Linked DNA regions of Homo sapiens. The protein of the gene in region 5 purifies or fractionates together with the protein of the main gene of each other region. This does not show direct contact. Each region holds a gene or a part of one and is shown on either strand. Other genes may lie near its edges. The genes, in order: SLC25A25, DNAJC3, ACSL1, CDC42EP1, FCN3, PCSK9 and OAF.

Region 1 (3,965 bases), on a different chromosome or scaffold from region 5:
AAGTTCATCTTCCTTTTCTTGGCTGGGACGGCCATGGCCTCTCCCCTCCCCTCTTTTTAAAGAAATTATAATCCCCTCAAGCGCCCCAATTCCCCTTCTCTTCTTCCTCAGCCTCGCCCCTCACCCACCCCCTACAGGGGATAGGCCAGGCTTGCTCGAGGCCAAGCACTAGGCCTTTGGTAACCCCCCTCGCTACGCAAAGTGCGTAGGGCCCAGCCCCGACCGGCCCGGCCGCTGCCAGCCAGCAGCGTAATGGCTTCCTGAATCTGCCTCTTCCGCCGAGGTGTGCGGAGATCCGCCCACTTCCCCTCTTCCCGCCTCCCAGCGCTTCTCCGGGAAAACCGGCCTTCCCGGTTGGTAGCTGCTCAAATATCACGTCGATCACTGGTTCTTTCGATCTGTCGCTCAGCTAAAGAGCACGCCTGCTTACTGTAATTCGCCTGATCATTGGTCTAAAATTGTGTCCGTCGCCCAGAGGGCCCCGCCCACCTAACCTTTATTCACTTCCATTGGAAAATCATTCTGTCGTTCAATTGTCAGTATTACGACTATTAAGCCGTTAAATTCAGCTATTTTATTGGTGGTTTAGGGAGTTAGATTACCAAAACCCTGCTTCCTGAGGATACTTAGTGCTTTCGGCCGTGACCCATGGGTCAATTAACTTTTAATTCCTCCCACCGGCACAAACTCTGCCTCGCAACTGCAGTTCACAAATGCTCTCACACAAATCCTGTTTCCCACTGGAGGCTACGATCTCTCCGTACACTACCGCTCCTCCCATCCTTAAGATCCCGCAGTCTAAACAGAGTTAGTTCATCAATGGAAACTGGACACGGGGCCTTCCGCCTGCCAATCACATTACTCATGCCTATCGCTGCGTGATTTTCTCTCTCTTGGCCCCCGGCTCAGCCAATCCCCGCCTCCCTCAGTTTGAATCGGCCCCAGGCGGAGCCGGGTGACCCCGCCCACCCCATTGATCCGGGTAGTCCGTGGCGCGTGGGCTGTCCTTAGACAGGCTCCGCCCCTCCCTCCTCCCCATCCGAGCCTGTGACTGGCCTTCGGTGCGCCCGGGCGTGGCCGGCGAAGCGGGGCGCGGAGGGGCGGGGCTCCCGGAAGCCGCCCCTTCCGCCAGCTTGCCGGCGTCTCCGAGCCCGCGCTCCCAGCTGCAGAGCGCCTGGCTTGCCTCCCGCGCGGTCACCGCCGGCCCGCCGCCCCCGCTCCCGCCCGCGCCCGGAGCCCCTGCCTCGCGCCCGATGGTGAGCAGTGTGTTGTGCCGCTGTGTGGCCTCCCCGCCGCCGGACGCCGCCGCCACCGCCGCCTCTTCGTCTGCCTCATCGCCGGCGTCCGTGGGGGACCCCTGCGGCGGCGCTATCTGCGGGGGCCCGGACCACCGGCTGCGCCTGTGGAGACTCTTTCAGACGCTCGACGTCAACCGGGACGGCGGCCTGTGTGTCAACGACCTGGCGGTGGGGCTGCGGCGCCTGGGACTGCACCGCACCGAGGGCGAGCTCCAGGTAGGCTGCGCGCGTCCTCAGCACTGGCGGGGAGGGAGCCCCTCGAGGGCCGGGTGACAGGTCTCGGGGGACGGCCCCTTGGGCTGGGCGGAACCCCCACTGTCCAGAGGAAGGGTGCCCCCTGACTCACTGAGGGACACCCCACTTATGCCCTGGTGGGAGCGGGGCTCCTTCCTGACTTCTTTGGGTGCTTGAGCCGGGTTCTTCGTGGACACAGGTGGGCATCCTATGGGCTTTCTGATGGGCGAAAAGCCCTTTCTTGCCCAGAGTAGAAGGCCAGGTCTCAGGAGTGTGCCTTTGTCACCTCCTGACCTCAAGGCCAAGCTGGACGCTCCCTTCACCCAAGGATGGGTTCATCCATCAGTCCCCAGCAGCACCCCCTCCTTTCCCTCTCGTTTCCATGCCAGCCGTGGGCCCTGATCTGGTTCCTCTCAGGAACATGTGGGAGTTGAAAAAAAAATTGGTATTGGGGTTTCAGGCTGATCCGTGTGGACGTTGGCGGCGAAGACTGACAGTTCTCATGGTTTAGGCTCATCTCCATTGCCCTGTTTATCCAGAAAATGGGATCGTGATCCCCGCGGGGTTGGAGTGTGGACGGAGTGAAAGAATCCGGGGGAAATTTTTTTTCTAAAAGTCAAAGCGAGATTGTTACTATTGTGGGCTCTTGGCCGAGGTGTGGGCATAGGGGCGCAGAGAAATGGTCATCCCTGGGCCTGCCAGGAAGAGAAGTGCTGGCCTTTCTGTATGAGAACCTCAGAGCAGAGGCTGTTTCTTTCCCTTCTGTCTCTTCCCCCTTCAGTCTGACTTGGCGGGTGTAGCTGCCATTTTCCCAAGTATTTCATTTACTGTAGCTTAGCCTGATTTACAGCCTGGAATAGGACTCCTGAGTACTTTACCTAAGAACCTGTTTCACTGCTGAGTTAGTTTGGTCCATTTGTACACATGACAATTAGAGAATCTCGTAGCCAAGTATGAAAAGAATCTGGTAAACCGCCAATGAATTAAACCAATTTGTTGGGTGGGTGTACATAGGTGTTGTTAACTCATGTTCAAGATTCTTGGATCAACATCCAAGGTATTTAGCGCTAACTATTAGGATCAGCCTAGGAGGACCAAGAGTAACACTACGCAAGATAGAATGGTTAAGTCCAGGAGATTTAGAGACAAGTTTTTTTTGTTTGTTTGTTTTGAGACGGAGTCTGGTTCTGTCTCCCAGGCTGGAGTGCATTGGTGCAATCTTGGCTCACTGCAGCCTCCGCCTCCTGGGTTCAAGAGATTCTCCCGCCTCAGCCTCCCCAGTAGCTGGGATTACAGGCATGTGCCACCACACCCAGCTAATTTTTTTTTTTTTTTTTTTGAGAGAGTCTCACTCTGTCACCCAGGCTCGAGTGCAGTGGTGCGATCTTGGCTCACTGCAAGCTCCGCCTCCCGGGTTCACGCCATTCTCCTGCCTCAGCCTCCCTAGTAGCTGGGATTACAGGCATGTGCCACCACACCCAGCTAATTTTTTTTTTTTTTTTTTTTTTTTTTGAGACAGTCTCACTCTGTCACCCAGGCTCGAGTGCAGTGGTGCGATCTTGGCTCACTGCAAGCTCCGCCTCCGGGGTTCACGCCATTCTCCTGCCTCAGCCTCCCTAGTAGCTGGGACTACAGGTGCCCGCCACCATGCCCAGCTAATTTTTTTTTTGTTTGAATTTTTAAGAGAGATGGGGTTTCACCGTGTTAGCCAGGATGGTCTTGATCTCCTGACCTTGTGATCCGCCCGCCTCAGCCTCCCAAAGTGCTGGGATTACAGGCATGAGCCACCGCGCCCGGCCACCCAGCTAATTTTTGTATTTTTAGTAGAGATAGGCTTCCACCATGTTGGCCAGGTTGGTCTCGGGCTCCTGACCTCAGGTGATCCACCTGCCTCGGCCTCCCAAAGTGTTGGGATTACAGGCGTGAGCCACCGCACCCGGCTAGAGACAGGTTTTTTTTGTTTTGTTTTGTTTTGTAATGTTTCCAGTCAGTTTTACACAAAATAGTGTTGTGAACTGGAGATTTTCCTGTATGTATCTGATGAATACTCACTTGAAAAGGTAGAATGGCTGGCCGGGCACAGTGGCTTACGCCTGTAATCCCAGCACTTTGGGAGGCCAAGCCGGGTGGATCACCTGAGGTCAGGAGTTTGAGACCAGCCTGACCAATTTGGAGAAAACCCGTCTCTACTAAAAATACAAAATTAACGGGGAGTGGTGGCGCATGCCTGTAATTCCAGTACTCGGGAGGCTGAGGCAGGAGAATCGCTTGAACCCGGGAGGCGGAGATTGCGGTGAGCTGAGATTGCACCATTGCACTCCAGCCTGGGCAACAAGAGTGAAACTCCATCTCAAAAAAAAAAAAAAAAAAAAAAAGAAAGAAAGAAAAGAAAAAATAGGAAGGCTAAACCCAGAGGGTTTCTGTTTCTGCTTT
Region 2 (3,995 bases), on a different chromosome or scaffold from region 5:
CTGTCCTATGTTACTAAACAGCTTGGGGTCACAGAGGATCATTTTATATTAGGGATATATGACATGTATGTATGCTTTCTGTATTTATGTTTTATACACACCGAGTATATATATATATATATATAGAGAGAGAGAGAGAGAGAGAGAGAGAGAATATGTATATGTGCATAAAATATAGAGTAATATATGTGCATAGATAAAAGCTGGAAAAGATAAATGCAAAATGAACAGTGATTACTTCCGGATAACATGAGAGCTACAATTTAAATTTTCTATTTTGTTATTTTTTTTCCTTTCTACAAAAAAAGCTAAAATATTTATTTTTCTATTGTACTGAACTGGTTTCAATGGCAGAACTCTTTCCTCACATGGTATACCTTTCAGGTTCCACTATGGAAGAGTAATTTTCAAGTTCTCTGCCATTTTTCTAAAATTGTCAACATTTCCAGGTACTCTGGTAAATTTGTTTTAAGGAAAAGGAAGCTTAAAATGTGATAATTTCCTAATCAACACTTCGGTACTGCAAATCAAATCCTTAAAGATTTACCTTCATCATACATTTCCTCTATCAAATAGGCCTCTGCTCGATCTTTCAGGGCATTCACATTGTCAGGTTCCATCTGTAAAACTTCAGAACAAACCCTAATAGCTTCAACAGGCTTCTCGTCCTAAAAGGAAATGTGAGACAAGGATTTATGGTTGGTATTCCACATGTTGAGTTTTCACATTTCTGGGAACAAGTCAACTGTTACCTTAGAAAAGCAGTGGCAAATCCTCTCCTTTGAACGAACTGTATATTCAGCAATGCTTGGCTCTGTTTTCATGACAGATTCATATTTGCTGGTAGCATCTGTGTATCTAAGAAATGAGCAAATCATGATAAGAAATGATGACATTTGATTTCCAGAGCTGTAGAAAGGCTCCTCCCCTCTTCACCATGTGTTGCTTAATCAATCCAATTGGATGAGCCCATGGCTTCAGATTCGGCTTTTCCCTTATTAATCTAGAGTCCCATAGAAGGTACACTCCATAATTAAGAGTTAGGAAATAAAAACATATGACCATAGGAGATGCAGATGGACAGAACAAAGCATACCTGTGAGTATAAGTACCAATCAAACCAGAAGAATTTCCTTACAGAAACATTGCTCAGAATTCCAAACCTGAGTAAAACACCCTGTTGAAGTCTGACTTACACTGAGCACCTTGAACAATACAGAGATCAAGTTTTATTTCTTGGTCAGTAAACACTTCCATGAAAATAATGGAACCCATTACGTGCCATTTTATATAATTAATGTCAGTATTTACAACAAAGTACAACGTAGTTCACACAAAAGGTACCTGATTAAATTCCCAACTGTATAAGCTTTCTAAGAATAAAAGCTATTTCAGCATTTTCTTTAAACCAGTAAAAAGTACTAATCCTGTTATATACTCAGTTATTTCCCTCAACAATAGTAAAGTAAAAAATATGTTTCTATGCCATGGTGGCACACTATTCCCAAAGTGCTACAATCTTCATATGTAAATATGCCAATGTATTAAAACACAGGCTTAACTAAAACATTTAAAATAAAAGCCAGCTTCTCTATCATCCTCAGCAAACTAACGCAGGAACAGAAAACAAAGCACTGCATATTCTCACTCATAAGTGGGAGCTGAACAATGAGAACACATGGACACAGGGAGGGGAACATCACACACGGAGGCCTGTGTGGGGCAGGCAGCAAGGGGAGGGAGAGCATCAGGACAAATAGCTAATGCATGTGGGGCTTAATACCTAAGTAATGGGTTGATAGGTGCAGCAAACCACCATGGCACACGTTTACCTATGTAACAAACCTCCACATTCTGCACATACATCCTGGAACTTAAAGAAGAAAACAAAAAAGCCAGCTTCTGGGAAAGTGGAATAGATGTATTTGTCCCAAGTGCTCCAGCTAAGCACAACTAAAAAACCCTAGAGATTATATGTATATTTTTTAAAATAGAAAACTTTCAAAGGAGGAAAAGAGACAGACTAGCTAGTGACTCAGGACCTGAGGAAAACATGGTAAGACGTTCCCTGGGTTCTTTTTTTTTGTTTCATATATCCCAGACTTGGAGCTGAAGATTCCAGCAATGCAGAAACGCCAACAGGTACAGAACGACAATAACAAAAACCTGCAGAAGTCTGCTCTGTCTAGCCAGAGGACCTGAAAAGGACAGACTTGCAAACAGAAAACATTTTTTTTAGAGACGGAGTTTCGCTCTTGTTGCCCAGGCTGGAGTGTAATGGCACAATCTCGGCTCACCGCAACCTCAACTTCCCGGGTTCAAGCGATTCTCCCACCTCAGCCTCCGCAGTAGCTGGGATTACAGGCATGCGCCACCACGCCCGGCTAATTTTGTATTTTTAGTAGAGACAGGGTTTCTCCGTGTTGGTCAGGCTGGTCTCAAACTCCCAACCTCAGGTCCTTCAATGGATAAATGGTTAAACAAACTGCAGTAAATCCATACCATGGAAACTACTCAACAGTAAACAAGGAGGAATTATTGATACAATATGGATAAATCTCCAGACAATTCGAATGAGGGGGAAAAAAGCCCATCCTGCCAGCTGTGGTAGCATGCATCTGAAGTCCCAGCTACTCAGAAGGCTGAGGCAGAAGGATCACTTGAGTGTACTATGACTGTATCTGTGAACAGGTGGGCAACATAGTGAGATTGTCTCAAAAAAAAAAAAAGCCAATCCCAAAAGTTTATACATTGTATGATTCTATTTATGTAACATTCTTAAAATGACAGAATTCTACAAGTGAATAGATTAGTGGTTGCCACAAGCTAAGGAAGGGATAGGAACAAGAGGGAAGTAGGTGTGGCTATAAGGGCAACATGAGGTGTCCTTGTTGGGATGGAATTATTCTGTATCTTGACTGCACCCACGTCAATATCCTGATTGTGACAATGTACTATAGTTTTGCAAGGCGTTATAGTCTGCAAGATGTTGGGGGAAACCGAGTGAAGCATTCTCATGATGGCAACTTACAAAGCTACTAAAAGTAGAGGAATTGGAGCCTATTTTCTATTAGGCAGTTTTGTCTGCAGTGCCCTCTACTCTTTTCAGTCCTCCTGCCCAGCCTATAAACCCCCTACAAACAACACTCACACAGACACAGCCTCTTACTTCTGTCCACTTTTACTTATTCTTTAGGATTAGGATTTAAATATCTATCACCTTCTCTAAAAAAAAAAGCTCCTCTTTTACTCCTTGCCTTTACCATCCTGGTTTGGAGTAAATACTCCTCTTTGGTACTCCAATTATCCTATGTACATTCTATCACTTTGGTATCATATTGTCTTTTAATAATCAATTCATATATTTGTCTCCCACGCAATGCTATAAACTTCTTAAGAACAAAAACTATTGTCAAGTTTAAGTCTGCACCCTCAGTACATAGCTCAGCCTGATATAGGAGATAATAAATATTTGGTATAGTACAAGTAATTCTGCTGGTAAGGATACTACACAGTTACTATTATTTATATTCTTCCCTATTCCAAAAATGTCCAATTCTGGTAGTTTTGCTAAGGCCCAGGGCTATCTAGAATACCCCACCCTCAATGGCTGAGAAGTAAAAGAGCAGTTCTGTAGTTCACTTGTGCCCACAGCCCCGCACATAAGGAATGGCTGGACAGTTGGAACAACCATATTCTCACCTGCCATCTCTGATGAGCTCTTCAGCTGACTCAATCAGCTTATTAAGTTTCTTTACTTGTTTATAGTGTGCAAAACACCTTTTATGATCCTGGTCAAGTTTAAGACATTCCCGAACTTCACTGTTCATGTATTTAAAAAAGGAAAATACTCCATGTCAAAACAATCAATGAGTAGTTTTCCACAGAAATCACAATAAAAGTATTTTTTGTTTGCAACGATTAAACAAAAACCATACTGAGACTTATAATTTACTATATACATTTATACGTGGCATTGTACCATGCATACATTT
Region 3 (4,571 bases), on a different chromosome or scaffold from region 5:
GCTTGCCACAAACTGAAATTTCTTATGCATTGACATTCAGCATTTGATGTAAAATGACAATCTTAGAGTCGCTGCCACAAACCCTGGTAAAACTGCCCCTGCCTTCTCCAGTTCACTAAGTTCAGCTACTCCTTCAGGGCTTGTGCTCCTTTAAAACTTTTCAGAAGCCCCTTGAAGTACCAACATGTTGAAACTCAAACTCAACTGCCTGCAGCTTCAGATCAGCTCTGGCCACTGAGAATTCTTCTCCAGGCCCCAGTGTCAAAGGCACTTTTGACCATCATGTGTTTGTCTGACTACCAAGTTGGACTGCCAACCTTCACTAAAAACTCCGGCACCTTTATCTACCTCCTGTCAGATCACCGCCTGTCAGAGAGGGAGGCCTAAAAAGGCTTCAGGATATCAACAGCTTTGAGCTGCCTTAGAGGAACTTCTTTTCTATTTTGTAGTACAGGAGCCTCATGCACTGCATCATCCAAACAAGACTCTCCACAAAACATTACTAATGGATTCTAATTGAACAGAGTTTGGTTACAAGAGACAGTAAACACAAATGGGCACCTGTTTTAAATGGCAAACTTACACAATAAATTCAATTGATCTTAAAAACTAAACATTCCTCTAAGGTTACTGACTATAAATATCTAGAAATTACTACTCCTATAGTCTTGCTATTTCCAGACAAGTGAAACTGGAAGGGAGAGAGGAGAAATACCCAGTTATAATGACAAGACAACCTTATCTTTTCTCAAAAGCCTCCCCAAACACACAACCATTTTCCACAAAACAGTTACATCAAAAAAGATGTAGCAAGACCTAGACATTAAGCATGCTAGAAAGTAGGGACAGTTTTACCAGTGTTTGTGGCAGCAACTCTGAGATAGTCATTTTACATCAAATGCTAAATGTCAATGCATAAGAAATTTCAGTTTGTGGTAAGCCCTGGGTTATATATAATGGCAACAAGAGAAAACTATCACATAATCTGAATTACGTTCATTTTTCTGCATACACCATGCATGCTGGTACACTTTCAGTTAGCCTAAACTTCACCCAAAAGTAGAGGTGGCTATGAAAACTCTACCTGCATGGTATAAATAGATACCTAACCCTACATGCATGGGTCACTTGTATCTACCTCCTAAATACCAAAAACTTAGAAGCCCAGATTTCTTTTCAGTCAGGCTGCCTGCGATAACAATAAAAATACTGCCAAAATAGGAACAACAGAGACAGGAAGGAAATATGCCAAAATGCTTATAATTGTGGGGAAGGGTAATTTTTTGTTTTGTTTTGTTTTTTACAGAGTCCTGCTCTGTTGCCCAGTCTGGAGTGCAGTGGCGGGATCTCAGCTCATCACAACTTCTGCCTCCTGAGTTCAAGCGATTCTCCTGGCTCAGCCTCTCGAGTAGCTGGGACTAGAGATGCATGCCACCACGCCTGGCTAATTATTTGTATTTTTAGTAGAGATAGGGTTTCTCCATGTTGGTCAGGCTGGTCTCGAACTCCTGACCTCAAATGATCTGCCCGCCTCGGTCTCCCAAAGTGCTGGGATTACAGTGAGCCACCACGCCTGTCTGGGTAATTTTTTTTTAAGTATTCTGTTTACAGTAAATTCAGAAAACAGAAGTCTTTAATATGTCTGTTTTAAAGGGGAGAGGTATAAGGTGTGCGGCTAACAAGTTTATTTTTCTAGTCGCAGAATTTGGACTCGTGAAAGATTTTAGTCTAATGCAGTTTGTTCACAAATATAAGGAGGGGGGCCTCAGACTAGGGAGGTGTTTTCCGAGTTGAGTCAGAACAAGAAAGTAAGTCTCCCAAGACCTGGTCCTTTTCCACTATATCACACTGCACTGTCTGGCTCCAATCTGATGGCGAGCAATGGTTCCTTAAAAAGCTCCATCTTCTCAAGCCTACCCAGCACAGACCTACAACTCAAACTTTAAGTTTTAGCCAGCCTAACCTTCCACGTCCACTTGAAAAAAGAAAAAAAAGAAAGAAACAATCAACCGGAAGCCTTTGATTTTTTTGCTAGCAAGAAGCCAATAATTGTTTTCTTTGGGACAATCACAGGTTAAGTTGTGAAATGGGTGGCAGAAACTGCAAGATTTAACCAGTTTCTCTCAACGCTAATCAAAGGTCAAGAAAATAAAAGACAGGGCAGTGAGAGTCGCGGGACTTTAGACACTCCTGCACCAAGAAGCTTAAAAGTCTTAGCCAGGGCACTAGAGAACGCTTTTAGAATGGTCACTCTTAATTATGCTCCATAACCTTGAAATTGGACTGAGTGGGGAAGGGGTTTCCACACTCTCACAACGCACCGACTGGGGGAACGCCTGTCCCCAGACTCGAATCCACGTGTCCATTCAAGTCATCTACCGCCACTCTCCGTCTACGCTGCCAGGTGACAGACATCATCTTTGCTTCTCAATTTCAAAAAATGCCAGCACTCCTTAGATCAATGACTCCACGGCCAAGTGCAAGGGCCACGGGCACTCCTCTGGAGTCACCGAGAGAATGTCTGCCTCTGGCAGCGGCCTCTGAGCTGCCTGTGGGCCTCGTGCCGCCGCGCTGCGTGGGGCCGGCATCTCAGCGGGCGCGAGTGCAGTCTCGCCCCACGCGCGGTCCGAACGCCCGCGAGCCCGGCCTCTGGGCAGGCGGGGGCCGCGGACGAGGGCAACGTCAGCGGCCCAGCTGGGCCACCTCCTCCCAGCCGAAGCGCGGCCTCCGGCTGCTTCGCCGGGCCGGTCCCCGCCGCCGCACACACAAGGGTCGGTCCCGCGCGCATCCCCGGCCGCGCACCAGCCCCGCGCCCGCGCCGCCCGCGACTCAGACACAGGAAGCTGCGGCAGCACGGGCACCCCGGAGGCCTCCGGCTGCCGAGGGAAGCGGGGCCGCGGGCAGGAGGCCGGAAAGGCGGCGCGGCCCCACGAGCCTGGGGTGGCTCACGCGCCTCCGCGGCGGCCGCTGCTCCGGGCTCGGCCCTGAAGGGCAACGTCAGCCGGCGCCTCGGCCGGGGCCCGGGCACCGCCGCGGGAGCAGGCGCGGCTCCGCACGGCGGGCGCACTCACCTCCTCCGTGGACCGGCCGCTCCGCCGCCGGCTGTCACTGCAGCCCACTCCCTGCCCCGCGCCGGCTCTGGATGCTATTTAAGGCGCCGCTGGCGCCGCCGCCTCGGCCCGCTGGTTGCGCCCCCGCCACCGCCGCGGCTGAGCCAGGATGCTGCTGGTGCGCTCGCCGCGCCGGCCCCGCCCTCCCGCGGCCCCGCCCCGCCCGCAGGCCCCGCCCCCGGCAGGCCCCGCCCCGCCGAGCGCCCGGCCGCCCTCCTGTCTGGGCGCGCGTGGCTGGCGGGTGGCCGGCGGTCGAGAGGCTGCGGCGGGCGAACGCCGCTGGAGTCGCCCAGACTGCCTCGGATTTCATAATGAATCTGAGGAAGGACAAAGGGTACATTGGACCGCCTCAGCTCAGAGGCCCCGCGGACCCTGGGCCCCGCGATGCCCGAGGGGCGGGCGGCGCCCTCCGGATCCTGCACCCTCAGCCCGTGCCCCGCTGGCCTCCTGGCAGGCCGGGCAGAATTCTGCTGCGAGGGCCCTGGAGGCAAGGGCCTTCCTCTCCGTTTTTCCTTGACACTGACGGGCGCGGCCCCACAGGGTTTCCCCCACGCTCCCTGGCCGGAAGACCTTTTCTGTCTGGTGTCTGCAGAGCCTGACGTGGGCAGCGCCCGCAGCTCGCGCCGGTGCAGGGGAGCTGAGGGCCGACTGCGCGCTGCACCACGGCGGCCACCTGCTGTGCGGTTCTGAGGGCTTCCGCGGTTCTGAGGGCTTCCGCGTCCCTGCCATGCCCATCTTGGGGCTTCAGAAGCCAACACGATGGTTTTCGGGCTCACATCCCAAAGGCTGCTCTTCCTTTTAGCACCTGGGACCTACCAGGAACCTCAACCTCTAACAACATTGGTCCCCGTTACCGTGGAGTTTGCGCCCAGCGTTCGCTGGAGGGCCGTTTGAAGAATGATTGTTGTCGTAAAGGCCTTTGATAATAATAGATACTGTTTACCCAGTGCTTGATGCCAGGCATTGCTACAAACACTGCGTACACATTATTCTATTTAATCTTCATAACCCAGTGAGGTAGGTACTGTCATTACTGTCCTTTCACAGAAGAGGAAGCTGGGGCACAGAGGTTAAATGCTAGTGAGAGCAGTACCACACTTGGCACTCAGGCTGCCCCCAGAGTGTGGGCACAACCAACGCAGGGCTATGCCTGGGCTGCAGGCAGGGGAAACTGACCGTGGTTCGCTCCAGGCCTCAGCCACACTGCAGTTCACTCCCACAAATAACTGAAGGACTTTCCCTGGGTGTCTCCCACAGTGTGCTGGGCGCAGTGGTGCAGTGGGGTGAGGACAACGCACACACCAGCAACCTCTCTAGCAGCTCAGTCCTTTTAGATCTCCATCTTCCAGATCTAGAAAAAATGGACTCCACGTTCGTTTTCACTGGTTCCCGCTTGGCTAATCCCTGGTTTTTCTGTCCAGATCTCGCCTCCCCATCCGTGATTTTGTCATCTTTGCCTCT
Region 4 (3,708 bases), on a different chromosome or scaffold from region 5:
AAAGACTTCCAGCCGAGATTCTCTGTCCTGGTTCTTCTTCCGAGTCACACCAGGATCAACAGAGCTTGGGTGTGTTCCCCTATCCCTACCTGCAGTTCCTGCCCCAGGGCTAAAAGCAAACAAAATAATCTGTTTTTATCGAGTCTTCCTGTGGCAAGAACTGTGGCTTGTGACTCCTTTCTCTCTTGGGTCCCTCAAGTTTACAAAAACATGGGATACCCCTGGTCTGAGGACCTCTGAATGAAGGCACCCCATGATCCAGAATGTCCTGCTCTCAGGGATCCTGAGGTCCCGTAGTGATCCTGCCTCCTGCCACACATCCTCTGGTTGCATACCTGTAGTGACAGGGAGTGCACCACCTCACGTTAGCTGTTTGTGGCTAAATTTAACCGGTCTTCCGATACCTAAGGAGGGCATTTCTCTTTCCGTGCATTTTAATGCTCCTGGCATTTTCATAATACTGAGGAGGAAACAGATATGAGGACACCCGGCTGCCATGTTGGGAGGCTGAGACATGCTCCCAACAGTCCTACGCACTTGCTTCTGTCTACTTGCCCCCACTATCGCCAGAGCAAATGCCATGCTGCCCTGTGGGATTATGGGGCAGACACGAGTCCCAGGCACCTGGGCCAGGGGCTGTTCCCGGAACTGCAGATAAGGGCTCCCACCTGGGCCTCTTATCTCAGGGGCGTTCCAGCCTGGTTACTCATTACCCTCCCCTTGGCGCGTCCACTTCCCTTCCCTGCTGGGGGCCTTGATGGGGGATCCTTGGCTTTCTAAACTCCCTGGAGGGGAGGGGACTGAAGCAGACAGAGCTGATGCTGTTGTCCCAGGTCCCCAAGCATCTTGCAGGACACCTTTTATCAAAACAGCCTTATTTAATCAGGCCCCAGAGGCAAGTCTGGGGTATACAGGCAGGTGGGATTCCTCCCCGGGAGGTCATACCTGACCTTTCTGGGGTAAGAGGGAGGCTGGGGCGGGGATGTTGGGGAAGCGGCCTGGGAGACGGCTGTCAGGGTTGCAGCAGGGACGCTCTGGGATGAGCTGGGGGCAGGCGGTCCCTTTGGGAGGTGAGACAATGGCCCTGTGTGGTACACTCCCTGCCCCCCACCCCCCACGGGCCGCTTGGTCTGGCACAAAGGACACACTGTGAGGCTGGGTCCTCCAGCTGGTGGGGGTGGCATGGAGTGGGGCCTAAGGAACAGCTATTAGGTCCAGAGTGGCAGTCGGGGGAGGTGGTCAGTTTGGCAGGGCCTCTGGGAGCATAAAAGTCCCAGAGCAAGCCTGGCCTTCCCTGTCCTCCCTCCCATGTCTGTCCTGCAGAGGTGGGGAGGGGTTTAGGGGCAACATGACTTCTCCCCTCTCCGGTCTGGTAGGAACCAGCTGTTAGGTGAGGGGCCGGCTCTGCACCTAGGTGGGGCCCTGGGACCGTGCCCCAGCCCCTCACACCTTGACCTCATCATCCTCCTCAGCATCCGCAAATTCAAAGGTGTTTGCTTGCACTGTGCTGGGCACTGGGGTCCTGCTGCCTGCCTGGGGCGCCCTCCACTCTTCGTCCAGGCTCTCCCAGGAGGCCCGGGCTTGGGGCAGCACCTCCACCCGCTCCTGCCGCGCATCCATCTCTGGGTAGTGGTGGCCGCCATCCCAGCCTGCTCCCCAGTGCCTGCCGAGGGCAGGGCCAGCAGGTCCTCGGGGACCCCCTCCCACTGGGCTGGACTTCACCTCAGCCACTGGGCCCAACCCAGCTGTTACCCCATTGGGACAGTGTCCATGGGGTGTGGAGCTTGCGGCAGGGGCTGGGGGATTTGCAGCAGGACCCGTGGGGGTTGCGGCAGGTGCTGAGGGGTTTGCAGCAGGCGCTGGGGGGTTTGCAGTAGTGGCTGGGGGGTTTGCAGCAGGACCCGTGGGGTTTGCAGTAGGGGCTGGGGGGTTTGCAGCGGGGGCTGGAGTCTCAGCTGCAGGGGCTTCTGGGAGGCTCATGACCCCTAGCAGCTCGCTGAGGAGTGAGGGCCCAAGGTCGAGGTCCAGGCGGAAGGACAAGAGAGAGTCAGAGCGGCGAAGCCCGGGCTCAGAGGGGAAGGAACCATCCCGGTCTCGGTCATGCGGCTTTTCCGAGCGGGGCAGGCGGGAGATGGTGCAGAACCCAGAGTCCAGGCCTAGAAGAGAAATGGGCAGTGGGCTCAGAGCTGGGGTCCCTCACCAGGAATTCAGGAGGGGAGACAGGACCAGTCCTGGCTTGCTGTGTGGCCTCTGGCTAGTCCCTCCCCTCTCTGGCCTCGGTTTCTCCCATCTTTCCAATAGAATACACTCCATGGTCACCTGTGTGATCTTCCTGTCTACCCCGAAAGCTGAAAATCATCATTATCCTCATTTCCATTATGCAGATGGGGAAAGTGAGGCTCAGTTTGGGATGGGGCGAAGGAGCTAGCCCAAGGCCATAGAAGTCTGACGAGGTGGAATCAAGTCTGGAGCTCAAATCTCCTCTCAGTCCCAACTGTGACCTCAGCCATGGCCACCGGCTCCCTGCCATGACGCTGGCCGATGGCTGCAGGTGAACCCATAGCACGTGAGCTGGTTTGTGGACACAGGATGGGACCAGCAATCAGGGTCTGACTGTATAGAAATGAAGGACAGACATGTCCAGCCCCTGCTTCCAGGACTACAGACCTGAGACAGAATCGGGTTTCTGTGGACCAGTCCTCAGTGCGGTTCTGAGCAGCCGCCTGGGGCAGGGGTGTTAGAGCCACTCCCGCAAGGCAGGGAGTGGCCACCAGGTGGCAGCAGGGGCCCATGGTTCTCAGGTGAGCTCTGACCGAACGGCCAAGGTGGCACTTCTGGCTGGGCAGGAAGGCCTGTGGCTTGCGGTTCCTGTGAGTGGTTTCCCAAATTTGTCGAGTTACAGGAAACCAAGTTCAGATAACAACAGCTCCAGTGTCCTGAGCACCTACTAAGTATCAGCCCCCCTGCGCCTCTCCTGGCACTGAATCTTAGCAATGACCCCGAGAGACTCATTATCCAGGCGAGGACTTGAACTTATAGAGGTCAACTGACTTCCTGAAATTCAGGCAGAACTGGATTGGAATCTAGAGCCCAGGCCCTTCACCTCTCCATGATATCATTCCGACATGAGGGGAAGGCTTTGGTTGAAGGGGGCAAGAATGGGTGGGTGACTGGTTCAGCTAAGGCCCAGAGAGGGGGATGTGCTTGCCCAGGTCACACAGCAAGTGAGGGGCAGCTAGAATTCAAACTCCACCTCCTCACTCTCAACCTCAGGTGTTTTGGGGAGTCAGCTTGTTCCCACCACTGCACCCCCTCCCCATCCATGATGTGGGGTCTGGGCCTGACCTCTGTGGTCACTTGGAGCTCACTTGGAGCTTGGAGGAGCCACTGAACCCCTCTGGGCCTCAGCCTCAGCCTCTGAAAAGTGGGCCAAGATGGCCCAGGCCCTCACCGTAGCTGGAGTGGCCGTCCGTGGAGCTGGTGGGGCTGCTGTCGAAGCTGAGCTTGCCAACCACGAGGCTGTCGTAGGCGGCCTGGTTGAGCTGGGGCAGGGAGATGGCGTTCTTGATGATGGGGGAGATGGCCGGTGGAGCCGGGGAGGGTGCAGGGGGAGATGCCATCCTCCGGGGGGGCGCCCCCACCCTCCGCACCAGCTGCAGCTTCTTGGCCAGGAAGCTGCGGGGTGAGCGATGGGTGCTCCCGGAGCTG
Region 5 (4,718 bases):
GCCCAGCTAATTTTTTGTATTTTTAGTAGAGATGGGGTTTTGCCATGTTGCCCAGGCTGGTCTTGAACTCCTGAGCTCAGGCAATCCACCCACCTCGGCCTCCCAAAGTGCTGGGATTACAGGTGTGAGCTACTGTGTCAGGCCTGCTCCACTGTCTTTACTGCCTGGCTCCTTGCTGTCTTCCTAAACCATGTCCCTGCCTCCACTGGTCCCCCAATGCAGTGCATCTTTCATGGTGTAGCCCGAATCATCTTTTTAAAACAGAAGTTCTACTTGGCCCCTCCCCTGCTTAAAACTCTCCTGGGGCTACCCATTGCCCTGCACACTCTTCTTTTTTTTTTTTTTTTTTAAGACAGAGTCTCACTCCGTTGCCCAGGCTGGAGTGCAGTGACTCAATCTTGGCTCACTGCAACCACCACCTCCGGGGTTCAAGCAATTCTCCCAGCTCAGCCTCCTGAATAACTTGGATTACAGGCGCCCACCATCACGCCTGGCTAATTTTTATATTTTTAGTAAAGATGGGGTTTCACCATGTTGGCCAGGCTGATCTCGAACTCTTGACCTCAGGTGATCTGCCCGCCTTGGCCTCCCAAAGTGCTGGGATTATAGGCGTGAGCCACCACGTCCAGCCAACCACCGCGTCTGGGCGCGCTGCACACTTCTTAAGTTGATCATTTAGTGCCTTCCATGAACTGGCCTTTACAGAGGTCCTCAATCCATGTTCCGTCAGTGCCGGCAGACTTTAGCCGACACCCACGCCTGCTCTCAGCTCACTCACGCGTTCCCTGCAAACCTTTTACTCTGCTGCCTCCCTGAGTTTATCTTTACTTCTAGCTGGAATGCCCCTCCCTACCCTATTTTTTTTTTTTTTTTTTTTTGAGACAGAGTTTCACTCTTTTCACCCAGGCTGGAGTGCAATGGCAAGAACTCGGCTCACTGCAACCTCCACCTCCTGGGTTCAGGCAATTCTCTTGCCTCAGCCTCCCAAGTAGCTGGGATTACAGGCGTGAGCTACTGCACTCAACTTAAGGTCTTTTCAAAAGGCACCTCCTCTGTGAAGCCCTCATACTTCTTCAGGTCCCATTGGGGGCTCACTAAACATTTGTCAGTGAATTCCTCTAGGAAATGCCTTGCTCTGGTGGGTTCTGGCTCCCCTAGGGGCCAAGGGGGAGAAGTGACCAGTGGGCCTGGCCTGTTAGCCCATTTCTCAGACACTCACCAGCCAGCCGCCCCCCTCGGTGTCCATGTCACAAAAGACTGGGAGGGCCCTGCCCTCAGGTAGGCACAGATGGTACCAGCCGCTCAAGGTGGCGCCCTGGCTCAACAGCTCCCGGCAGTTTCTGGGGCCTGGGAAAGGGGAGATGGACTGGGGTGGTGCCCAGGTTATTCCCTGACCCCCACCCCCAGGCACTGGAACAAGTGTGGGACCCTAGGGACCCTCTTGGCTCCTTCAGGTCCCTGAAGAAGGGTTCTGAGGAGGCTGTGGGGAGGATCTTGGCCACACTTGGGGGTCTGCCAACACCCAACACCATGTGATCCCAAGTTCCTGGCTCCTGCAAGGGCTGCCTCACCTTCCTGGCACCGGAGCAGGTTCACTGGATCTCCTGCCCCAGAGAAGGGATGAGTGTTGGCTCTGATGTCTCAGCACCCCAGCGCTGAGCCACCAGTGGAGCCGGTACCCAGGCCCTTTTCCGAATCCTTCCCACTCCTCCCAGCCTTCCATACCCTGTAGGAGGGCCATCATAGGGTACCCAGGCCCTTCTCCTAATCCTCTCCACTCCTCCCAGCCTTCCAAACCCTGTAGGAGGGCCTTCATAGGGTACCCAGGCCCTTCTCCTAATCCTCCCCACTCCTCCCAGCCCTCCATCCCCAATAGGAGGGCCATCATAGGGTAGCCAGGCCCTTCTCCTAATCCTTCCCACTCCTCCCAGCCATCCATTCCCCTGTGAGAGAGCCATCATAGGCACAGCAGCCAAGCAGAGATCCCACCCTAGAGTCCAGGGACAGAGGCAAAGAAAGCGGGGAGGCCTCCAGCCCCACTTACTCACCTGGCTCACCCTTGGGGCCCATCTTGCCTGGTGGTCCAGGTGGCCCTGAAATCACAAAGGCAGAGATTTCCTGAGTCCCACCCCATGCCCAGGACCAAAAAGAAACAAGAGACTTGGAGCCAGAGGTTCAAATCCCAGTTTCACCCTTCACTCACTTTGTGATTGCGGGCAAATATCTTATCCTCTCTGAACCTCCCTTTCCTCCTCAGCAGAATGGGGATGAAACCACTTACCTGGCAGAGTTGATCTTAGGATGCCGGGTGCCCAGCCTGGAGCTGGCACAGAGTAGGTTCCTTGCTCCTTTGTCGTGGCCCCTCAGCACAGACAAAAATTGCTACTTTCCTGCCTTCCCCATTCCCAAGATCCCAGCCCGCTCCCCAGCCCCTCTCACCTTGAGGACCTGGGGCTCCCTTCTCCCCAGGACTTCCTGGAGCTCCGGGACAACTGGGCAGGAGGACAACTTTGCTGGCTTCCAGTTCCCTGGGTCCTACAGGGAGACACAGGCAGGGTGGGCACAGGGTAGACTGTCTCTTCCAGACCCCTCTTCAGTTCTCTTCCTGTCTCCCAGATTCCCACTGTCAGGATGCTTGTCTCCTGAGCTGGCAAGGTTTCGTGTGCTTTGCATCCATTTGCATATATTTACATGCAGAGCCCAGATTATGAAACTCCCACCCTGCTCCTTGAGGTTGATGAGCCTTGGTGGGGGGACACCCAGCGAGGGAATGAGGAGTGGGTTGGTGAGGAGGGCACCCTAGGTGCCCACCTGGGCAGCTGGGGTGTTCCTGGGTCTTCAGGCAGGCAGGCCCCCCAAGCAGGAGAAGCCACAGGGAGGGCAGGATCCACAGTAGATCCATCTTGCTGGGCCCACCAGGGGAAGGATGCCAGATTATAAGGGGGCCAGGCTGGTGGGAGGACATGAAACAAGACTTCCTCCCATTGTCCCCCAGGGACACCCCACCCAGACTGGAGCCAGCAGGGGGTGGGAGTATTTCCTCCTTCAGCCCCAGAGAGAAAGGGCATTATCCCTGCCCTATCCAACCAGGATGGAGTCCAACATCTTTTTGTTTTTTGTTTTTTGTTTTTTTGTTTTTTTGAGACGGAGTTTCACTCTTGTTGCCCAGGCTGGAATGCAATGGCGTGCTCTCAGCTCAATGCAACCAATGCAACCTCTGCCTCCCGGGTTCAAGTGATTCTCCTGCCTCAGCCTCCCAAGTAGCTGGGATTATGGGTGCACGCCACCAAGCCCAGCTAATTTTTTGTATTTTTTTTTTTAGTATAGAAGGGGTTTCACCATGTTGGCCAGGCTGGTCTCGAAATCCTGACCTTAGGTGATCCACCCACCTCGGCCTCCCAAAGTGCTAGGATTACAGGTGTGAGCCACCGCACACTGAAAGAGTCCAACTTCTGATCCTGGCTTCCAGGGCTCCCCAGCCATCTCTCCAGACCTCTACATTCACAGTCGTCTCTACCTGTGAAGCCCCATCTGTCCATGAAGGTCTAGCTCTACAGCCATCTCCACTGGGAATCCTTCCCTGATCCTTGTCAATGCTATGAATAGTGACAACTGCTACCATTTCCTGGGCATCTACTGCATTCCAGCGTCATACTGACGTCACCTCCGATCCTCACATGGACTTGCTATTAATCCTTATTATTGCATTATGGGCCTGGTACAAAATGGGTGCTCAGTAAGAAAGAGTTAAATGAATAAGGAAAGAGAAACTGAGGCCCAGTGATGGGACGTGACTTCTGTTCTCTTGGCCACTTATATGCTGAGAGCAACAGAGTTTTACCCAAGCCCCATGCCCCCGCCAGGGAAAAGCACCATTAAGAAAGTGATTCTGGCTGGCTGCGGTGGCTCATGCCTGTAATCCCGGGATTTTGGGAGTCCGAGGCAGGCAGATCACCTGAGGTCAGGGGTTCGAGACCAGCCTGGCTAACACGGTGAAACCCTGTCTCTACTAAAAATACAAAAATTAGCCGGGCTTGGTGGCATGCACCTGTAATCCCAGCTACTCAGGAGGCTGAGGCAAGAGAATCACTTGAAACCCGAAGGCAGAGGTTGCAATGAGCCGAGATCGCACCACTGCACTCCAGCCTGGGCGAAAGAGCAAAAACTCCGTCTCAAAAAAAAAGAAAGTGACTCCATGCTCAACCTTGAGTCCCGTGAGGCTTAGGAAACAGCTGCTAATGTACGCCAATTGAGCGGGAAGCCCATGTAGGAAGGCCTGGAGGCCGGGAAGCCAGGGAGGACGCAGCAGCCAGGGTCCAGATGTGAAGGATCAGGCCTGAGCTGGAGAGGGACCTCAGGTGATAAGGGAGGAGAGGCAGGGCTCATTCATTCACTCATTCAGGAAACCCTCCCTCAAGGCCTCCTCTGCACCTCCCTGGTGCTTATGGAGAGGGCTGAGGTGCAAGTGGTATCAGGGGAAGTGGAGGCAGTGTTTGCCTGACAGGATGTGTCCGCGAGAGGGATATCCTGAGACCGCAATTCCAGTTCTAGGAATCTGTCTTCCCCAGACTGTCCCACGAGTATGCCAAGATCTGCAGACAAGCCTGTTTACCATGGCGCTGTTTGTAAGCATCAGTGTGGAAATGACCCAACCAGTCATTGATGGCATTCACATGAATTAGGACCATTCAGACAACTCACAGGGTGAATCTGATCTA
Region 6 (3,995 bases), about 28 Mb from region 5:
TCTGCCCAATACTCTTTGGGCCTCCCTGTTGTCCAGCTCTCTCCGCGGCTCCATGACTGACAACTTGAGCAAGGCTAATGTGAATGGGAGCGGTTGAGGGCTCAGACCTCTCACCCGAGGAACATCCACAGAGTGTGCCGCATGCCCGGTGCAGTGTGGCTGCGGGGACACAGACACGGAGCCTCGGCCCTGAGGAGCTGGGGGGCAGTGACCGTCCCTCCTCTGACCCACCACTCCTCCAGTGTCAGGACACTGCGGGTATCTAGGGGAAGGAATCTTGTTCCACTTCAAGTCTGGAACTTCAAGTCTGTGTGTGTGCGTGCGCGCGCGCGCGTTGGGGGTGGGGGTTGCAGAGCAGATGCGTACCTGACAGCGGTAACCTAGGTCCCCCCTGGCCTATCAAGGCTTCCCTGGCGGCCGAATTTAAAGGCATCAAGCAAACAAAGCCCAACACATCTCTGCCTTGTCCTCTCAGTTTCCCCCCGTGGCACTTAGAACCACTTGATACACCGAATAGTTTCCTATCTCCCCCACTAGGATGTAAACTCCACAGGGGCATTGGGAATGCTGCCTGGCTATGGTAGGGACAGAGGGGAGCACCAGGGCGGGGCAGGGGTGCCAGAGTTCTGCCTGGGCAGTCAGATTTTCCTTAGGAGGGGACATTTGAGTGGGACCCAAACAGGTGTATAGCAGTTGTCCAGCCCAGCTGGCAAGGCCTGAGTCTGCCTCTGCAACCCCTCTCTTGGGCTCCTTTCTCTGCCACCCACCTCCTCACCTTTCCAGGTCATCACAGTTGGGGCCACCAATGCCCAAGACCAGCCGGTGACCCTGGGGACTTTGGGGACCAACTTTGGCCGCTGTGTGGACCTCTTTGCCCCAGGGGAGGACATCATTGGTGCCTCCAGCGACTGCAGCACCTGCTTTGTGTCACAGAGTGGGACATCACAGGCTGCTGCCCACGTGGCTGGTAAGTCACCACCCCACTGCCTCGGCCACCGTGATGCTAACAGCCCCTTTGGCAGTCAGGGTCTGTGCCGGGACCTCCAGTGCCAGGCTCTGTGCAGGGGGACCAGAGATGAAGTAGGCCTGATGGTGCCTTCAAGGACACTCAGTCTGATGAGGGAGGCGAGTGCACAGAGGAAACACGAGGTCAGGGCTGTATTAGAGGGAGCCCAGAGGAGGCACCTGCCCAGCCCGAGGGTCAGAGAAGGCATCTTGGAGGAGGGACATTTGATCGGGAGCTTGATGGATGAATAGGAGTTCACCTGGCCGATAAGACAGCAACTACCAAGGCTTAGAGGTGTGAGAGGAGGCTGTCTTACCTCACTGAGTAAGGACTGCAGGCGGCTTACCTTCGAGAAGAGAGCTTAGTGTCTGTGTGCACGTGTGTTTGTGTGTATGTGTGTGCGTGTGTGCACTGGCAGGAGTCCCCTGCTGGGGCAGGAGGGCCGGGCCATCACCATCTTTCACCATTCACCCCTGCACCAGGCATTGCAGCCATGATGCTGTCTGCCGAGCCGGAGCTCACCCTGGCCGAGTTGAGGCAGAGACTGATCCACTTCTCTGCCAAAGATGTCATCAATGAGGCCTGGTTCCCTGAGGACCAGCGGGTACTGACCCCCAACCTGGTGGCCGCCCTGCCCCCCAGCACCCATGGGGCAGGTAAGCAGGATGGCAGGGTGGGCAAGTCCAGGCTGGGGCTTGGGAGGTCTGTGTGACCTTGACAGTCTCTCCCTTCTCCCTTGTCTGTGTAAGGAGGATGACGCCACCTTAAATAGGATTAAATGAGAATGGGGCTCTGAAAGGGCTGTGCAATATTTTCATAACGTGTTTTTATAGAGACAGTTGAGTATGTTCTTTAAGCCCTCCTCTCTCCTACCATGAACTAAAGATTTCTGTGGAGGTCCCCTCACTCCCAGCACCCCCTCCTCATCCCAGGCCCTTTTTGCAGGTTGGCAGCTGTTTTGCAGGACTGTATGGTCAGCACACTCGGGGCCTACACGGATGGCCACAGCCGTCGCCCGCTGCGCCCCAGATGAGGAGCTGCTGAGCTGCTCCAGTTTCTCCAGGAGTGGGAAGCGGCGGGGCGAGCGCATGGAGGTGACTGTACCCCTCCTTCGTGTGTGTGTGTGTGTGTGTGTGTGTGTGTGTGTGTGTGTGTGTGTGTGTGTCAGTGCTGGGCCCTCAGGGACCCCCAGCAAGCCCCTCCATCCTCCAGACTCCAGCTCTTCTGTAAGCTTACAGGGCTGGCCAGACCAGGAGTGGGGCACTCCTCACTTCACGCGGCTGGGGGCTGCTGGAGAGAGCCACAGCGGGAAGGGTTTCCTAGAGGCTGCAGGACAGTGCTGGATGGATTTTCAATGCTCACCTGGGTGTGAGCGTGCGGCAGGGCCGCGTGAGGGTCAGCGATCTGCTACTCTGGACTCAGCCATCTCTAGGCCCCTCTCACTCAGGTGCTCCATGGTTCTGGGAGCTGAGAAATCTCAAACCAGCAAAAAAGTGGAATTGATGTTGATGCTACAGGATAGTGCACAGATGCCATCTGGTTGCAGCATTTTGGTGGAAGGGCAGTGCCCAGCTAGGAGAGTGAGGAGGGGCAGGCATTTCTGGCTTGAGGAGATGGGGTCTTAATGCTCGTGTGAGAGGCAGAGTGGGTGGAGTGGAGCTGGCTGGATCCTTGCTTTGGCCTCCTGGATTTCTCTCTATCTCCATTTTGAAACCACTCTGTGTTTGGAAGAACTTTTGAGTATTCAGAGCTGCCCACTGGCAGAACAGTCTTCCTTGGGCAGGAGTGAGCTCCTTGTCCCCAGAAGGCTGGGTCTGGCTGGCCCCTGGCAGGGACACTGATGAGGGTGCTTGAGTTGATCCTGTCTAGTCCCTTTCTGTGTTTTCAAAGCCCATTCTAAAGCAGATTCCCATTTCCGTCTTTGACTCTAAGGCCCAAGGGGGCAAGCTGGTCTGCCGGGCCCACAACGCTTTTGGGGGTGAGGGTGTCTACGCCATTGCCAGGTGCTGCCTGCTACCCCAGGCCAACTGCAGCGTCCACACAGCTCCACCAGCTGAGGCCAGCATGGGGACCCGTGTCCACTGCCACCAACAGGGCCACGTCCTCACAGGTAGGAGGCTGGGCTTGCCCTGGGGTGAGGAGGGGTCTCTTTCTCCTTATGCACCCACTGCCCGCGAGGCTTGGTCCTCACAAGTGTGATCCATGAGACTCAAGCCTGACTTGCAGTTCCATACTCTGGTTCTGCCACTTCCATGCCCTTTGAGCCTGGGCAGGTGACCTTACTTCTCCTCATCTCAGCTTCCTCCTCCATAAGAGGGAAAAAGGTATTACCTGCCTCATTGTGTTGCAAGGAGATGGGCAGCATCTAGGGCACTGGCCTGGAGTATCGCAGGTGCTTTGCCTAAGGTGGTGCAGTCCAGGAGAGGCAGCTCCAGAGAGAGGCCCCCGGCTGGGGCTGAAAGGAGGGCAGACCTCGGTTTGAATTTCACCCTGCCGCTCTATAGCTGTGTGACTTGGGCAAATTACTTAACATCTCTGTATGAGGAAATGATGAGTGCTAAGCACTTAGCTTAGTGCCGGGACAATATAAATTCTAGCTATCGTTACTATTGTTTTCATCACCCGTTGCTTTAAAATCCAGCCTCTGGTATAGGCAACTATTGACGGGCTACCCTGTGTCGAAAACATGCCCAGGCAGGTAGCAGGAAGTCACAGATGGGGACCTCTTGGGGCATCAAGGGATGGTGCCCTGAGGCTGAGCTGTTCTGGTTGGGTGGAGCATGAGAGGTCTGGGAAGACAGTGGGACTCCAGCCTGGAATAAGAGGCTCAGAGTTGATTCTCGTCTGAGCACGTCCAGGGGAACCACTGAGGGTTTGGGAACAGGAGAGTGAGGGTGAGAACCTGGTTCTGGGCACAGCAGGCTGGCATGTAGGATGGATGTTCAGGAAAGATGAGCATAGTCAGGTGGCTGGTGCCCTTGTCCAGGGG
Region 7 (3,298 bases), on a different chromosome or scaffold from region 5:
CAAGCTGTGGTCTTGCCCCCCACACACATACACCCTCCCCCATGGCCTGCACCCCAGACTATGCCGCAAGCTTGACATAAGTGTCCTCCAGAAGCTGGCCCCTCCCATACAGCCCCTGAGCCTAATCAGGCCGGTACCTTCCGTCTCCTCCAGCGCCCCAATATGCACACTTTCCCATTTGATCCAAGCCCTGGCCACCCTGACCTGACCTGCCCCACTGTGGGTGTGCTTTGCTGGCCCTTCTCTGCCTAGCCCTACTCAGATGTCACTTTTTTTTTTTTGAGATAAAGTCTCACTGTTGTCCCCCAGGCTGGAGTGCAATGGCACGATCTCGGCTCACTGCAACCTCCGCCACCCGGGTTCCAGCAATTCTCCTGCCTCAGCCTCCAGGATAGCTGAGATTATAGGTGCCCGCCACTGTGCCCAGCTAATTTTTGTGCTTTTAGTAGAAACAAGGTTTCACCGTGTTGGCCAGGCTGGTCTCAAACTCCTGGCCTCAGGTGATCCACCTGCCTCAGACTCCTAAAGTGGGATTACAGGCATGAGCCACTGTGCCCGGCCAGATGTCACCTTTTTTAAGAAGCCTTCCTTGACTTCCAACCTTGTCTCCCCACGCCTCTATCTCAGCACACTCCGGTATGGTGATTTTTTAAAGCATTGGGTGGCAGTGTGGTCTAGTGGAGGCCTTGAAACCTTGGCCAGATCATTAAACTCTGGGTCGATGTTCTCATCACTAAAACAGGGATGACGATACTTAGCCCATGGGGTGACTGATGGAGGTACTGTAAGTAGAGCCCGTAGCACACAGTTGATGCCATAGAGGAGGGTGATTCCTATTTAATCTGTTTCTCCCACGAGCCCAGCAAGGAGGAGCCTAGTAACCAGGTCTTACCTCTGTGTCCCATGGCAAGCTTGGAAATGGAGGTGTCTGTAAATGCCTGTGGGATGACAGAGGAGACCAAGTGGGGAATGGCAGCGGCCTCTGACTAGGGGAGCTCCTTCCCTCCCTCCCTCCCTCCCTCCCTGATCCTTGCCTCTCTCCCCCAGGTGTGGACAGTTCTGTGTTCGAGGCTCTGCCCAAGGCCTCAGAGCAGGCGGAGCTGCCTCGCTGCAGGCAGGTGGGGGACCACGGGAAGCCCTGCGTCTGCCGCTATGGCCTGAGCCTGGCCTGGTACCCCTGCATGCTCAAGTACTGCCACAGCCGCGACCGGCCCACGCCCTACAAGTGTGGCATCCGCAGCTGCCAGAAGAGCTACAGCTTCGACTTCTACGTGCCCCAGAGGCAGCTGTGTCTCTGGGATGAGGATCCCTACCCAGGCTAGGGTGGGAGCAACCTGGCGGGTGGCTGCTCTGGGCCCACTGCTCTTCACCAGCCACTAGAGGGGGTGGCAACCCCCACCTGAGGCCTTATTTCCCTCCCTCCCCACTCCCCTGGCCCTAGAGCCTGGGCCCCTCTGGCCCCATCTCACATGACTGTGAAGGGGGTGTGGCATGGCAGGGGGTCTCATGAAGGCACCCCCATTCCCACCCTGTGCCTTCCTTGCGGGCAGAGAGGGAGAGAAGGGCTCCCCAGATCTACACCCCTCCCTCCTGCATCTCCCCTGGAGTGTTCACTTGCAAGCTGCCAAAACATGATGGCCTCTGGTTGTTCTGTTGAACTCCTTGAACGTTTAGACCCTAAAAGGAGTCTATACCTGGACACCCACCTCCCCAGACACAACTCCCTTCCCCATGCACACATCTGGAAGGAGCTGGCCCCTCAGTCCCTTCCTACTCCCCAACAAGGGGCTCACTATCCCCAAAGAAGGAGCTGTTGGGGACCCACGACGCAGCCCCTGTACTGGATTACAGCATATTCTCATCTCTGGCCCCGAGGCTGCCTGTGGGGCGAGTGGAGACCTCCCATCACTGAGACAGATCACAGACCACGAGTGCCTTTCCCGGACCTGGACGTTGCCTCCAGAGCAGGCACCAGCTCTTTCCCTCTCTACACAGAAATATTTTTGTAAGGTTCTGGGGCAGGGAGGGAGCATGAAGTACGAGGAAAACTTGAATTCCAGATTTTTAGTGCAAAGTATTTATCATTTCTACCAGAAATAAACGTTTTAAGTTTTTACTTGACTAATGAGACCCAGAGTTTGGAGAAAACTTTTGGCCAATGCTGCCACCTGATGTCAGAAAGTGTCCCCACACCCTAGCAGTGGCCTATCTTGGAACAAGAACTTCGAAAGCACCTACTGTGTGCTCAGCCATTTGAGGAAGGAAGGAGGAGAAGGAAGATGTTACTAGGGAAGGATGAGATAAAACTTCTGCACCCAAGACAATGAGACAGACATAGCTGCAACCGTAGTAAGCCAGTCAGAAATAGCCAGCGCGAAGGCAAGAGATGGGGTGGAGATTGGAACCCCGCTTCAGATCTGGGCTCGGCTACTTACCTGCTGTGCAGCCATGGGTCAAGTTGCTTGACCTCTCTGTGCCTCCACTCCCTTAGCTATAAAATGAGCTTACTTAAGAGACCGAAGTGAATTCTTGCATGTCAAGCATCTAGCACATAGTGCTGTTAGCCATTCTTAGTATCATTACTATTAGTGAAAAAAGCAGACATTCCTGCAGCTATAAGCCTGACTCAATGAAATCAGACATCTGGAAGGCTCTTCACTTCCAAAGTATCTTTCAACATGAAGAGGCTGTAATAGGAAGTGCCGGGCAGGGTTCTGGATGGTTCCAGAGCGAGGGATGTGCAGGCTGCATGTATTGGGAAAGGCTTTCTGGAAGAGTTGGGGTGTGGGTTGAGGCTGGAAGATGGTAACGATTTGGCAAGGTGGAGGCAGGAGTGTTTTAGGGGTTGGAAGAGTCTCATGGGTTCCCCAGGTGACCCAACTTTCTCAAGGAAGAGATGGGGACAGTCAGATCCTTCCTTGAAGGCCTTGGCGAGGGAAGGGGTTTGCAGGGTGGTCCCCTTTACTCTGCTCCCAGAACTCCCAGAACAGGCTGCAACTGCCCCTTGAACTCATGCAGGCCAGAGGGTTGAGGGAGCTGGGCTTGCTTGGCCTTGGTTGAGCTGAGGGTCAGCGGGGAGATAACCTTTTCAGGTGGGCACACCTCCCTTCTGAACCTGTTTTCAAGGACCAGCTCAGCCTTGCTGGGGGATGGGGAGGGAGCTGTCCCATCAGTCACCCCCCAGTCCTTTTTCTCCTTCCCTTTCTGCCAGGGCCTCCATCCCAAGCCCCAGCCATTGCTCCAGGTGGGCAAGGGATACTTGGAGAAGGCACCTGCTACCTCCTGTGTGCCTTTTTTG

The links.
Region 1: the proteins of FCN3 (region 5) and SLC25A25 purify together in Homo sapiens (affinity purification with mass spectrometry; one large-scale study listed by BioGRID and IntAct). This does not show direct contact.
Region 2: the proteins of FCN3 (region 5) and DNAJC3 purify together in Homo sapiens (affinity purification with mass spectrometry; one large-scale study listed by BioGRID and IntAct). This does not show direct contact.
Region 3: the proteins of FCN3 (region 5) and ACSL1 purify together in Homo sapiens (affinity purification with mass spectrometry; one large-scale study listed by BioGRID and IntAct). This does not show direct contact.
Region 4: the proteins of FCN3 (region 5) and CDC42EP1 purify together in Homo sapiens (affinity purification with mass spectrometry; one large-scale study listed by BioGRID and IntAct). This does not show direct contact.
Region 6: the proteins of FCN3 (region 5) and PCSK9 purify together in Homo sapiens (affinity purification with mass spectrometry; one large-scale study listed by BioGRID and IntAct). This does not show direct contact.
Region 7: the proteins of FCN3 (region 5) and OAF purify together in Homo sapiens (affinity purification with mass spectrometry; one large-scale study listed by BioGRID and IntAct). This does not show direct contact.

What each region holds. Positions count from the first base shown.
Region 1 is NC_000009.12:128,067,067-128,071,031, forward strand, and holds the start of SLC25A25 (mitochondrial adenyl nucleotide antiporter SLC25A25), read left to right. Parts: upstream 1-1,165; 5' UTR 1,166-1,253; coding exon 1,254-1,514; intron 1,515-3,965. Other genes in the region: NAIF1 (nuclear apoptosis-inducing factor 1), read right to left, coding at 1-35. UniProt on the Homo sapiens protein: Electroneutral antiporter that most probably mediates the transport of adenyl nucleotides through the inner mitochondrial membrane.
Region 2 is NC_000013.11:95,760,506-95,764,500, reverse strand, and holds part of DNAJC3 (dnaJ homolog subfamily C member 3 precursor), read right to left. Parts: intron 3,823-3,995; coding exon 3,703-3,822; intron 859-3,702; coding exon 753-858; intron 669-752; coding exon 548-668; intron 1-547. UniProt on the Homo sapiens protein: Involved in the unfolded protein response (UPR) during endoplasmic reticulum (ER) stress.
Region 3 is NC_000004.12:184,822,845-184,827,415, forward strand, and holds the start of ACSL1 (long-chain-fatty-acid--CoA ligase 1), read right to left. Parts: upstream 3,125-4,571; 5' UTR 3,072-3,124; intron 2,393-3,071; exon of another isoform or gene 2,322-2,392; intron 1-2,321. UniProt on the Homo sapiens protein: Catalyzes the conversion of long-chain fatty acids to their active form acyl-CoAs for both synthesis of cellular lipids, and degradation via beta-oxidation. Preferentially uses palmitoleate, oleate and linoleate.
Region 4 is NC_000022.11:37,566,556-37,570,263, reverse strand, and holds the end of CDC42EP1 (cdc42 effector protein 1), read right to left. Parts: coding exon 3,452-3,708; intron 2,157-3,451; coding exon 1,444-2,156; 3' UTR 859-1,443; downstream 1-858. Other genes in the region: LGALS2 (galectin-2), read left to right, coding at 1-1. UniProt on the Homo sapiens protein: Probably involved in the organization of the actin cytoskeleton. Induced membrane extensions in fibroblasts.
Region 5 is NC_000001.11:27,371,917-27,376,634, forward strand, and holds the start of FCN3 (ficolin-3 isoform 1 precursor), read right to left. Parts: upstream 2,909-4,718; 5' UTR 2,903-2,908; coding exon 2,812-2,902; intron 2,536-2,811; coding exon 2,440-2,535; intron 2,094-2,439; coding exon 2,049-2,093; intron 1,605-2,048; coding exon 1,572-1,604; intron 1,348-1,571; coding exon 1,220-1,347; intron 1-1,219. UniProt on the Homo sapiens protein: May function in innate immunity through activation of the lectin complement pathway. Calcium-dependent and GlcNAc-binding lectin. Has affinity with GalNAc, GlcNAc, D-fucose, as mono/oligosaccharide and lipopolysaccharides from S.typhimurium and S.minnesota.
Region 6 is NC_000001.11:55,056,548-55,060,542, forward strand, and holds part of PCSK9 (proprotein convertase subtilisin/kexin type 9 isoform 1 preproprotein), read left to right. Parts: exon of another isoform or gene 1-258; intron 259-783; coding exon 784-967; intron 968-1,488; coding exon 1,489-1,662; intron 1,663-1,951; coding exon 1,952-2,100; intron 2,101-2,896; coding exon of another isoform or gene 2,897-2,938; coding exon 2,939-3,116; intron 3,117-3,995.
Region 7 is NC_000011.10:120,227,821-120,231,118, forward strand, and holds the end of OAF (out at first protein homolog precursor), read left to right. Parts: intron 1-1,047; coding exon 1,048-1,322; 3' UTR 1,323-2,514; downstream 2,515-3,298.